Homo sapiens: one gene and its partner. The protein of the gene in region 2 interacts with the protein of the main gene of each other region in a pairwise test. Each region holds a gene or a part of one and is shown on either strand. Other genes may lie near its edges.

Region 1 (3,659 bases), on a different chromosome or scaffold from region 2:
CTTGTCTTGAACTCCTGGCCTCAGGTGATCCACCTGCCTCGGCCTCCCAAAGTGCGGGGATTACAGGCGTGAGCCACCACGCCCAGCCTGGACTTTATTTTCTTACAATTATTTCCTAATTTTTCCTTCGAATCCTTTTCAAAAATCATTTATTTTTTTCTGCTTGTAAAAGTAATTTATCCTCAAGAAAAAACATAGAAAAAAAGAAGATAGTAATGATTATAACACTTGATTCAATATTTTAGTGCATTTTCCCCATTTTCTTCTGTATTTGTAAAGTTTTCTTTCTAGATCAAGAAATATAAACATACACACAGAATTTTAAACACCACACACACAGACACACACACACTATTTTTACTGCTGTTTGAGAAACAGACTATTTCAGATTAAAAAAAATCAATGTAATGTCTTCTTCACTTCTCAAGAAAATTTCGGGCTCTGCTTTTATCTTTCTTCCCCCAGAAGATCTATAGCTAAAGAAAAAAAAAATGATAAAAGAATTGTCAGTTCAGCCGGGCCTGGTGGCTCACTCCTGTAATCCCAGCACTTTGGGAGGCAGAGGGGGGCAGATCACAAGGTCTGGAGTTTGAGACCAGTCTGGCCAACATAGTGAAACCCCATCTCTACTAAAAATACAAAAAATTAGCTGGGTGTGGTGGAGGGTGCCTGTAATCCCAGCTACTCAGGAGGCTAGGGCTGGAGAATCAGGCAGGAGAATCAGGCAGGAGAATCGTGAACCCAGAAGGTGGAGGTTGTAGTGAGCCGAGATCATGCCATTGCACTCCAGCCCTGGCGACAGTGCAAGACTCTGTCACAAAAAAAAAAAAAAAAAAAAAAAAAAGTCAGTTGATAAAAATTAAGTCAGAGGAATATAAAAATATGTTTGGAGAACCTACTTGATTCTTGTGGTATAGCTACAGCTATTTCTGAAGTAGTCAACTTTTTAGATTACCATGGCTTAATAATTTGGTATAGTTTTTCCAACTCTTTTCTGTGTAAGAGTTATAATTTGTTGCAAATCAATGTCCATGTAGCAAGATTTCCCGTTCTCAAATACATTATAAATGTATAATTATGGGAGGGGAAGTGGTATAACTAACTCTTGCAAAATTACATGTTTAAACCTTTTAAGGAAATTTTGTATCTACAAATTCAACTAATATAGCGTTTTGCTCAAATCTGGCTTCAGTAAATAATCACCGAAAGGCGAAATGTTTAATATATTTTCTGAATGGATTCTGCAGCTTTCATTGCAGTCTAAACTCCCAGGGGAATTATTTGAAGAAGACAAATATTTGTGGGGTTTTATGTTCTCTAGAGCAGAGAGTTGGAAGTTTTTGTGTTGTCATTTTTACCAGGGGCATGCACGAGGGAGTCACAGTAAAATAATGTCATACATTAGTAAGGCACTCTATGCTGTGCTTTCACACACAGGTCTCATTTTGTCCTCTCAATAGCGTTTTGAGTTAGAGAGGGCATATTATTTGCCTTAGAAACTGGCTCAAAGCAACAAAGTGATTTGCCAAGGTCACTGGGACTAGAGTGCTGTGTCCTTCCACTATAGGAGACAGATGAGGGGCTCTGGGGACTGGAGCACTCCACTCTGGGCTGGGCTGAGAAGTGTCCAAGCTGACAAGCTGAGTTGATAAGGTCGACACTTCACATCTTGTCCATGATTGCTGAGAGGCAGGGATAAAAGTCCACTGGCCAAAAGCAACATCTGACATCTGAAATAGTTGTGGCTACAGAGTCATCTCCCCTCATAACCTCCTCTGTTATAGTATAATAACTGACACAAGGTCCCAGAGGGGAAAGTAGATGAGGGAATGGGGGAAGGGAAGCCACAAGGAGGGTATGTTTCATGCATGTTCCTGTGCATGAAACTGGGTTACCAGCCCCTAAGGGATTGAATTCAGTTGGATGGATGATTTGGGCATCTATGAAAGCTTCTCAGACAAAAGGGTGCCATTAGAACTTTGAGAGAGTCTGTGGATAGAATTCAGGGGTTTCTACATTTGGATGGGAAAAAGATCCCATCTTTTTTTTTTTCCTGAACTGTAATTGAAGTTTAGCACAATCTTCAATTACGGAAGAAACAACAAACCGCAGTAGTATTTGTATTGCCTGTGATTTTGTTACCAATAGAAATAATAAATATTTTCATGTTACATTGCATTTGTTGGAATTATCTCAAAATATGATTAATGCTGATTACTACTTCAAAATTATGGTGGTTATTGTTCCTGCCACCATGTTAATAAAATAAACTTATAAATATTTGGATGTATTTCAATACAGTAGTTTTCTTTTGTAATACTATGTATTTCACTTCAAGTGTTAAAAAAGTTATTCTCACTTCTGAGGTAGCTGTAGTAGTGACAGTCATGTCAATCCAAATTTCCTAGGACGTACTCCAAAAACTATGCACAATTCAAAGAGAAGAACAAATAGAATCACATAAAATCCAAGCCTCCACCAGAGCTAGAAAACAGACAACCCTATTATTTCAAATTATTTGATTGAGAAAATAAGCACAGCTGACATCTGAACAACGTGGGCTGTTGGATCCCATATTGGATCCAAACTGCCTGGATCCACTTATGTCTTATTTTCTTCAGCCTCTGCCACCCCTGAAACAATAAGACCAACCTCTCTTCTTTTTTCCTCCTCAGCCTACTCAACATGAAGATGGTAAGGGTGAAGACCATTATGATGATCCACTTCCACTTAAAAAACAGTAAGTATATTTTATCTTCCTTATGCTTTTCTTAATAATATTTTCTTTTCTCTAGTTTATAAGAGTACAGTATATAATACATATACAAAATATGTGTTAATTGACTATGTTTTTGGTAAGGCTTCTGGTCAACAGTAGGCTGTGAGTTAAGTTTTGAGGGAGTCAAAAGTTATACATGAATTTTCGACTGAATGGGGCACTGGCGCCCCAATCCCTGTGTTGTTTAAGGGTCAACTGTAACTAAGCTGTGGATGATGGAAGCCAGGCTTCACACTGTCAGAAGGAGGAGTAGCAAATATGAAAAAGGAGAGGCTGGAATGAACTCTGTGGAGTGGGATTATAGTTGGAAGAATCAGTATGAACTCCTGGTTTTTAATATGAGTCAGTAAATACAAAAATGGATAGGTAACTTTCTAGATCTACCCGATGAGCTAGAAACAATGACACTCCAACAACAATGAACATACCAAGGGCTCAGAAACCAATTTCTAAACATTGTGTTCATGTTCTTTGGAAAAGCTAACATCAGGGCTGAGCTTGGAGGCGAATGTACAAAATAAGCCTGGAGCATCTTATGCTACAAGTAAGTAAGTGCTCAACGAATGCTGGAGATACATCACTAGTACATAGATGTCAGCTGGAAGGGGCTCCCACTGGCGAAGTAAGAGACAATTTGAGCATCAAAGCCAATAGTGATAATGGGTAATAACTCATTAAATCAGATATGAATTCATGAATCCATTCTGAAGTAAATCAATCAATAAATAAGGATAAATGGAAATTTTTCCTTAGAATTAATATGCCATCTAATAAGTGTCAGACGAATGATGGAATTAGAATATCACCATTTGGCAACTGACATAGCAACAATGGTTTCAGGCAGGAATGATCAATGGATGCTAAAACTAGTGGGTCAAAT
Region 2 (3,659 bases):
CGTGGGAACAACATCGGCTCTGAAAGCAGACAGAACTGAGATTGAAGACCAGCTCTGCCACTTACCAAGGCCAAACAGCAGTTCAGCTTTTCTGGACCTTAGTTTCATTATCTGTAATGTAGGAATAATCATACTTTGCCAGGTTATTGTACAAGTTGAAGAAAATCTTTTTTCTTCACAGGACTAGCCCCCCATAATGGTGGGTGTTGAATAAAAGGTGGTTACCAACACCCCTGGGGAAGTTACTTAACCTCTTTGTGCCTCATTTGTGGAATGGGATGCTAGAAGTCCACCTGGCGTAAAGGATTGTTGTGTAAGGATGAGATTATATGCATACAGGGTGCTTCACATATACTAAGTCCTCCTTGAGGATTAGCTGCTATTGATTATTTTATCATTATTGTAAAGATTTCAGCTACCATTGAGAATTTACAGGTCATCCTTTCTTTGTGGAGTTTTTAATCATGCATGATGGTTATGTCAAAACTCACAAACAATGATGGTATTAAAATAGTACTTGCAAAATGTGATCAGTGCTTTGAGGAAGGTAAGGACTTGGCCTGGTACATCATAAATATTTATTAGAGTTTGTTGACTTAAAAAAAGAAAGCCAGAAAAGTCTTTTGACCTCTAGAACCTTAAACTGTTCCCTTGCAGTTCTTCTTTTTTGGCATGGAGAATTAATTATCTGCAAACTTCTTCCTTCGCCAGAGCAGCTCTTTCACAAAATAAGGCTTACCTAAATTCTATTTTTTTTTGAGACGGAGTTTCACTCTTGTTGCCCAGTCTGGAGCACAATGGTGCGATCTCAGCTCACTGCAACCACCGCCTCACAGGTTCAAGCGATTCTCCTACCCCAGCCTCCCAAGTACCTGGGATTACAGGTGTGCACCACTACACCTGGCTAATTTTTGTGTTTTTGGTAGAGATGGGGTTTTGCCATGTTGGCCAGGCTGGTCTCAAACTCCTGACCTCAGGTGATTCACCCACCTCAACATCCCAAAGTGCTGGGATTACAGGTGTGAGCGACTGTGCCCAGCCTAAATTCTTAAGCCTTCTACCAAATATAAGAGAAAATCCAGGAGCTGGAGTGGGATTGGGTGACCTGTGGATCCAGTTGCATATTTACCCCGCTCCATCTGTGGTTCAAATGCTCACCAGGCTACAGCAGAGAAGCTGGACTTATGCATGCTGGTAGTAGGTATCAGTAATATGAAATCAGGATCCAGTTTTATTTTTATTTTTATTTATTTATTTTTTGAGATGGAGTCTCGCTGTGTCACCCAGGCTCGAGTGCAGTGGCACGATCTTGGCTCACTGCAAGCTCCACCTCCCGGGTTCACGCCATTCTCCTGCCTTAGCCTCCCGAGTAGCTGGGACTACAGGGGATCCAGTTTTATTTACAACCTTACATATCCATGAATTGGCTATAATTACATGTACAATCAGCATAGCCAAGGACAAAGTACTATGATAGTTAGCTCTTCTCTTCCTTTTCTTTATCTGTCTGTTCTCTTATCTTCTTCCTTGGCTATTCACCAGGTTGGTGGAAGAGGAGGTTCCCCAGCACTGGCCACTGACTGTGTGCTGTACTACTTTTTTTTTTTTTTGAGATGGAGTCTCACTTTGTTGCCCAGGCTGGAGTGCAGTGGCACGATCTTGGCTCACTGCAACCTCTGCCTCCCGGGTTCCAGCGATTCTCCTGCCTCAGCCTCCTGAGTAGCTGGGACTACAGGCGTGTGCCACCACACCCAGCTAATTTTTGTATTTTTTTAGTACAGATGGGGTTTCACCGTGTTGTCCAGGCTGGTCTCGAACTCCTGACCTCATGATCCGCCTGCCTCAGCCTTCCAAAGTGCTGGGATTACAGGCTTGAGCCACCGCGCTTGGCCTGTGTGTCCTACTTTCTACTTGTCCTTAGCATCACTCAGGCACACTGTTTCCCCACTACCCTACTTTACCCAACTGCTACGCACCTGTCCACATACATGCTGTATAGATTGTTTCCTGGATGATCCTTTGACCTCTTACTAATAACAACCCTTACATAGCAAGGGTGCTATGCAGATGGTTCATTAATCAATTTATTCTCATTCCATCTCCCTCCTCCCCATCTCCTTATGCTCTGTTCTCTCCGTAGATTAAAATATAAAACAAAGAGGCAGCATGTTCCTAATTGGATTGTTTTCCAGATTTACAGAGTCTCTGGGAATATTCTGAATTCGTACTCCCAGTATTGTTTTTATCAGGATTCTAAGAAGTGGCAAAGTTAAGTCAGCATCTCAAGGTGGAGAAGTCTGCAGAATGTTTGGTGGAAAAGCCATGAGCTAGGGTTGAAAGAGCTGTCACCTAGCATGGCTGTTAACCCAGGCAAGTGACTTAGCCATGCTCACCCTTAATTTCTGGTCAGCAAAACAAGAGAACTGGGATCTTTAAGGCCTCTTCTAGCATCAACTGTGTGGGTTTCTGTTCTTTGGTTACTCATCTACAAAACATAGTCATCAAGTTTTACTGTTTCTGAAACTGATGTTCTTTGTTAGCTCCTTCTTGACGTAAGTTTAAATCTGTAACTAGTATCTGCTGATTTTAAAATGTACCTTTATTGTTTTTATTACAAAAAATATTATACTTTCTACTGATACATTTCTCATTAGTTATTACCAATGACTCCTCTTTCTCTTCCTTATTCTATCCTGTCTCATCTCATTCTTTATAGTTAAGTGTTAATGGTTGGTAGCTAGTATCTCAGACTTTTCTAGGCTTGAAATATATGCATATGTAAACATAAAATTCCTTTGACTATAAAGGGATTATATTATACATATGGTTCTGAAGCTTGTGTTTTTATTAATTAGCAGATGATAGAGACAAACATTAGGAAACAATATTCAGTGAAACATCAGTCTCTCTTATACCCTTAATCCTCAGTTGTCCTTCCTTAGAGGCAATGTTTATATATCAGAAATTTTCTGTGTGTATATACACACATATATAGTTAGGATTTTTTTTTAACAAAGTGGGAGCACACTACTCACTGTTTAGCTCCTTGCTGCTGCTGTTTTTTTCCCCTCCTTTGGTTTAATGTTATATTTTGTAGATTATTCCATGTCAAATAATTCATGTAAACACTTAGTAAGTGCTCAAAAATGTTAATTATCATTATCAGCCCCCTAAACAGCTTTCCTATTCTTTTTTTAAGGCTGCAAAACATTCCATTGTTTACATACACTAGTTACTTATTGATATTTCCAATGTGGCTATTATAAATAATGGTTCAGTGGACATCCTTGCTTCTAAGTCCTTGTAGGACTGTATCTGAGGAAGAAATGTCTGTTGAAAGACTGTACCTTTTATATTTTGTTAGGTATTTAGAAGGCAGTCTAGCAGTTGGTTGAACCTGTTTGCATTCCTATCAAGAATGTATGAGGTGGCCGGGTATGGTGGCTCATGCCTGTAATCCCAGCACTTTGGGAGGCCGAGGTGGGTGGATCACTTGAGGTCAGGAGTTCGAGACCAGCCTGGACAACATGGTGAAACCCCATCTCTACTGAAAACACAAAAATTAGCTGGGCATGGTGGCATGTGCATGTAATCCCAGCTACTTGGGAGGCTGAGGCAGGAGAATTGCTTAAACTCTGGAGCTGGAGGTTGCAGTGAGC

What was found.
Region 1: the proteins of STX8 (region 2) and DHRS9 interact in binary tests that used the Homo sapiens proteins (3 or more experiments, as listed by UniProt).

Annotation. Positions count from the first base shown.
Region 1 is NC_000002.12:169,076,001-169,079,659, reverse strand, and holds part of DHRS9 (dehydrogenase/reductase SDR family member 9), read right to left. Parts: intron 1-3,659. UniProt on the Homo sapiens protein: 3-alpha-hydroxysteroid dehydrogenase that converts 3-alpha-tetrahydroprogesterone (allopregnanolone) to dihydroxyprogesterone and 3-alpha-androstanediol to dihydroxyprogesterone. Also plays a role in the biosynthesis of retinoic acid from retinaldehyde.
Region 2 is NC_000017.11:9,548,175-9,551,833, reverse strand, and holds part of STX8 (syntaxin-8), read left to right. Parts: intron 1-3,659. UniProt on the Homo sapiens protein: Vesicle trafficking protein that functions in the early secretory pathway, possibly by mediating retrograde transport from cis-Golgi membranes to the ER.